Linked DNA regions of Homo sapiens: region 2 is linked to region 1. Evidence: fine-mapped expression QTL. Tissue or cell type: whole blood. Region 1 holds a variant in brackets; the other region holds the start of a gene. All regions are shown on one strand. Distances are between the middles of the regions. Region 1 has its middle 35 kb from the start of DCTD. Region 2 holds the start of DCTD (dCMP deaminase).

What was found. PIP is the estimated chance that this variant, and not a neighbour inherited with it, causes the effect.
Region 2: it holds the start of DCTD, and the variant in region 1 is fine-mapped to the expression of DCTD in whole blood (TOPMed, PIP 0.98).

The regions. Positions count from the first base shown.
Region 1 is chr4:182,881,221-182,884,130 of GRCh38, forward strand. No RefSeq gene overlaps it. Among named protein-coding and RNA genes, the nearest start is that of DCTD, 35 kb to the right of the region's middle. The variant C/T (reference allele first, on the strand shown) is at 1,326.
Region 2 is chr4:182,915,865-182,918,774 of GRCh38, forward strand. It overlaps DCTD (dCMP deaminase), which reads right to left and starts at 1,522. Exons shown (of 6, transcript NM_001921.3): 1 at 1,447-1,522. RefSeq lists a silencer at 1,154-1,863.

The DNA.
Region 1 (2,910 bases):
CTGCTGTTTGGTAAAGAGCCCCACTTTTTCGTGGGTGGGGGGGGGAGGCATGTGTGGCCACGCTGCTCCTCACCTCTTTTTCCTGTGATTCTCGTAAGAACCTTTCAGAACCCTCTCCTCCCTGCTCCCACCCCTTTAAAGACAGTAGTAGCTGCTTAATCAAAATGTGCCCATGAGCACTGATGTTCTGAGTCGGTAGCAAAGGGCTGGATGTATTTATATGTGTATTTTTGTCAGGCACTTATCTTATGCCAGTGTGCGCCTTCCTCTGCCTCCTGGGTATGACCTGGGGCCAGCCTGTTTCTGTCAACGGCACCAGGGAAACAGTAGAAAGGAGAGGAACGTAGAGTCGTTATGAGTCTGTGAAATTTGGGAAATTAAATGAAAAGTCCACTGTGCCCTCCACTCAGCCTCTCCCTCTTGGAAGGCAGAGCTGCGGGGGGAAAGGCTGAAATCAGCTTCATTTCCCTCCATTCCTGACTCTAACAATACAGGAGAATCAAGGTCAGAAAACATGCAGAGAACACGCTCACAGTATGGAGTTTCTTCTAAGTAATACTTTTCTGATTCATTTTATTACAAAATTAAATAGTTGATCCATTTGAACTCTCATGAATAGATATTAAATGTTGCTTATTATAAGAATGCTAATAAATCATTAGTTTTTTTAATAAAAAAAATTAACCACCAAATGGCTAACAAATTAAATTTAAATCATTAAGTCTGATATTCCTAGAGAGGATCACAGGGGGTGGTACATTAGAGAACCTGTTTTTATTTTGTTTGGTTTTAAACACAAAGAGCCCGTGCTGGCTGCTGGCTCGAGCCTCCCTGGCCCCTTTCCAGACAGCAGCGAGCATCTGTGAGGCAGCTGACCAGGCGGAGCGGCCGTTTGGAGGGTGGCCGGGCTACCTGGGCTACGGGGCCGAGTCCGTGACCTCAGCCTCATTAGTCCTGGCTCTAACCAGCCGCGCTAATCAGCGCCAACATGTGCTGCTCAGGTGTTGATTGCTCTGTTGCTCATCACCCCTTCTAGGGCTGCCACACGTAATTAAAAGCTCTACCGCGAAGATGGCCAATCAGCCTCAGCTAAGCTTAGAAAGAACTATTGTCCCCTCTCAGTGTAAAGGATGCAAGAAACAGGAAGCCCCTGGTATGGGGACACAGTTTAATCAGAACTCAGAGCGCACCTTTCCAGCTGTCTGCCTGGACTGCAGAGAGACCTTGGCTGAATATTTCATCCTCTTGAAATATACTGCTGCGACCTGACTGAACATTTTCACACAGGGGCTTTAAATTAGAAGAGAGTCTGTGATATTCTCATT[C/T]GTAAAACCATAACAAACTGTTTCATTTGATCAGCTGCAGCAAACCAAGATAGCCTGGTATATACCAAGAGTTTGTCTATTTTTTTTCTTCTCTTAAAGCAATGATATTAATCATACCTTGCATATTCACTATATTATAGGAGATAAAAATAGAGGTAAAAAGAAAATGATCAATTCTTTAAAAAAAAAAATCTAATTCTTCCCCCATCAGGTGATGTCATCCGGGCCAAGAAATGCAGACATAGAAAGGGGCAAAGTCTTGGTGGTGCGTGCCTGTAATCCCAGCTACTCGGGAGGCTGAGGCAGGAGAATCACTTGGCCCGGGAGGTGGAGGCTGTGGGGAGTTGAGATTGTGCCACTGCACTCCAGCCTGGGTGACAAGAGTGAAGCTCTGTCAAAAAGAAAGAAAGAAAGAGAGAGAGAGAGAGACAGAGAAAAAAAAAGAAAGAAAAAGAGAAAGAAAGAAAGAAAGACAGACAGACAGACAGACAGACAGACAGAAAGAAAGAAAGAAAGAAAGAAAGAAAGAAAGAAAGAAAGAAAGAGAACGAACGAACAAAGTCAACAGCGAACAGACACTTCCAAAGTGCCTTTCGGGCTATAACCGTACTGTCATCTAAGGCAGCTGGCACCTCAAAGCATGAGCCTACAGATTCTTTCATGGGGTCTACCCTGTCAAAATGATCTTCATTATAATACTAAGATGTTTTTTGCCTTTTTTCACTGTGTGGACATTTGCACTATGCAACCAAAGCAATGGTGAGGAAAAGTGAGGGTGAAGGAATCAGAGGCAGTGGCGCCCACGTGCACTCTTCACCACCACATGCTCAGGGAAGAAAACAAAGGCAGAGAAGTAAAAAGACCATTTCCCTTAAGATGTCCTCAGCGATGCCGGCAGGAAAAAGTATTACTTGTAGGGAACCTCCACGTTGACGAGTCATCTTTTTCACACTTCCTGGGTGAGATGGGAAGCGTGCATGAAGCACCTCTGCACGTTGTCCTTAGGAAGAGTGCCACGCTCTTCCTGTTTGAGTTGCAAGCTCAACTAGCCCCTTTGTTCATGGGATGCCATTTTTACTTCAAAGAAAGAGTGACTGTGGATACTCAGATTTGGGGACATGACAGACATTTTCTTGAAAATGAACAAAGTAAGCTATTTATCACTTTGAGGGAAATGAAGTGATCAAATGATAAAATTCACGCTTTCAAGATAAAATCCGAATTTTGGAAAACTTGTTATCGGTCACTGTGAACTTGACAGCTTCCCAGTACTTAAAGAGAGAGATTTTTCTCAAATTAGTGGTGATGTTTACAAAAGTGATTTGGGGACGTTGTATAATGAAATGTGTCAAGTCTTGAAAGATCTGCATCATTCAATGAACTGGTAGTTTCCAAATGACCAATAGTATCATGCATGGGTTAAACATCAATTCAAAATACAAGATAGACCAAATGATTTTAATGTAAGATAATAGGAAATACTCATTAATATGATTTCAGATTTCACATTGCAACTAGCTTTTAAGAAACTTTCATATATCAAATTGTGGTGTGGTATCAAAGACTATCCACAATTTTCTGAAAA
Region 2 (2,910 bases), 35 kb after region 1:
TTGTTGTGTCCTTTACCTGTCTCCCTTACAAAGCGGAGTCAGCACAGGAGGAGGGTGGAAAAAAGAAATATTTATTGATCATCTATAGATTCCAGACATTGTTAAAGTTTATACACATCATGTCACTCAAGCCTTACTCCTAGCTAAGGTAGACAGTGCCATCCCATCTTACACAGACTCAGAGAACTTAGGTAACTTAACCTAAACCACACAGGATTATCATCCATGCCAGACGGATTCAAAGAAAACATCTGAAGCCTTCCCAACTCTGATATTAACCAGATAATTTTTCCCTTCCCTTTCTCCTCAATAATCCAGATGGGACAGAAGTTATCAACTCCGAGTAATGAATTACATGAGAAGAAACTATGAAAAACGTCAAGTGCTACTCCTAAAGCAAGGTTTTTGGAACGTAGTTTACCAGGGGCAAGCAGAGACTGTCTACGGCAGGGAGAGCCCACGAAGGGGGTCCTAGGACTTCAGGGGAGTGGTCGCTTTCAAAAGGAATGAAACAAGGGCAAGGAAGGAAGACAACACAAAAACGGGGTGGGTACCACGGAGAAATCTTGAGAAAGGCGAGGAATGTGGTCTAAAGGAAGGCAAGCATCTCCCAAAACTTCTGCTTCAGGCTCCACACTTTATTTAGGCATCTGCTACAGTGCAGGGCGGCAGTGCCTAAGACAAGGATGCAGTGGAGAGTGGGTGCTGGGAACCACGGTCACCCACTGATTACGCTGCCCCACATCTGAGAGGCCTGGCAACCCCCCTAACAGGAAAAGACAGGTGCTGAATCAGCCTGGTTTCCCACCTGGCTTTAGGGCCAGCATCCATCATCGCTGTGGGGTGCTGGAGAAGTACCTACTAAATAGGAGGGAGGGGGAGCCATGGGGGGCGAGGGAAGAGCAGGAGAGGGAAGGGTCCTGTTAATCCCCTGGGCGCCTTCTCCTGGTGTGGCTGAACGCCCACTAGAGCCCTGTGAGGACTGAGGCCCAGCTGTAGAAACAGAGAGAACTGGAGCTCGAATACAACGATTCAGGAAGACACATCCGGTCACCGTCCCAGGCACACCCCACGCCGCTCGCAACCCCGTCAGCTCTGATCCAGGGCCTACACCCGGCATTCCCAACCCACACACGGGCGCAGGAAGGGATGTGGTGTTCAGACGCCCAGCACCACCTCCCGGGGCACTCCAAGGGGCCCGGCCTCGCACAGGCCGCGGCGCCCGCCGAGAAATCGACCCTGGAGTGACTGCGGGGACCCCGAGCGCCCCCACCCCGCCCGCATTCTCCGATCTAAAGGCTGAGCGCGGCCGAGGCGCCCCCAGCGTCCGCGGCCCCAGGCCCCCGCCCGGCAGCCAGCGCCCCGCGCCACGCGCTCGGGACGGTGCCACGCGGCGGTGGCTAGGGGCGCGCGGGCCGCGTACCCGCACGGCTGGCCCCCGCCCACCATCCGGTGCCGGCTCCGCGCGCAGGCCGGTGCTCGTCCCCGCCGCCGCCGTGCTCAGGGAAGGAAGTCGGGGGAGGAGGCGGGGCCGCCGCGGGGCCGGAAGGGGGCAGCGGCCCGGGCGCCGCGCGTTCGCAGGACGGCGGCTGGCCCCGGGGGCCCGAAGCCCTGAGGGGAGGGAGGGAGGGACGGCGGGGGCGGGTCGCACGCCGCAAAGGCGCTGCTCCGCGTCGCCGTACGCCTCCCGGTCCCCGTGACGCAGCCCGCGGTCCGGCCGGCGGTGTTCAGAGCCCGAGCACAAACTACTTCCCGGGTGCCAGACCGCCCCGAGGTCGCCCCGCTGCCCGGGTCACGCGTGGCGCTGGGTGGCCGCGAGTTGGGCGCTCCCGGGCCTGACTGCACGACCGTCGGGGGCTGCTTGGTTTGGTGGTGGTGGCGGTGGTGAGGTTTTCCCCACCATCCGTGTTCCATCAACTGCTTAGAGACACGGCTATGGAGATTGTGATTAAAAGACGACCCCAAGAATCTAGTGCCGTGAAACTGGCGGGGCGGGAGGTGGGGAGACCTGGTTTGGGTCTCTGGAGTGAGCCCGCTGTGTCGCAGCGTCCCCGTGGGGACCCTTGGCCGGTGGCTGGGTCACAGTTTCACACACTGGATGGGGCAGGGAACTGGGTCCGGCGGGGGCGCTGTGCCTCGAGGCTCAGTGCCTCGAAGCTAGATTTGCATTTGGCTGCGCCTGACAGGCTTTCAGTTTCTGCTCAAATTGTGCGGAAGGGCCTGAGGTGTTTGCTAAAGCCTGCCGCGCCCTGCTCGACCCGTATCACCGCACAGGCACCCCACCTGCATGTTACCTCCTGGTAATGCTCGCCCACTTATATAGTGCACATTTTGTTGCAGTTGTTTCAAAGATGAGAAAAACAGGGCAATAGGAAAGACCATCAGTGACATTTCTGGAGTCGTATGCCCCAAGCAACTTAATCTGGTTTTCATGAACTTCGTTACCCTGTGCAGACGTCTAGCCCCTTACAGTGGTTCTAGCACAGAGAATGACAGAAGAACCCCTTTCTGTTTCATTCATGGGACTTGAGGGGACTGTCAGCACTCCATAAATAACAGCTACTGTAATAATCGCCAGTTCTGATCTGCACATCCCAGATTTGAACTGCTATTCCAAACAAAAGCTTGTTAACTATATTAATTTAGCCTAACGGAGGAAGAATGATGAGAGTAAACAGTTGGTTCTATCTAATTTCTCACTACAGCAGACACATCATTCTTCATCTCATGGTCCAGCTTGTAGATTCAATAATTAAATTATGTACTGCTCTTGGTGGATGCCGGGAAAGCAAAAGGGAGAAATACTTCATCGTTAACTATAGATTTTTTTTTTTTTTTTTTTGCCTTGATAAGACTCAGGCTTGAAAGAGCCACATAGATTAAGATGATGATTTTTAATTTCAAGTTGAC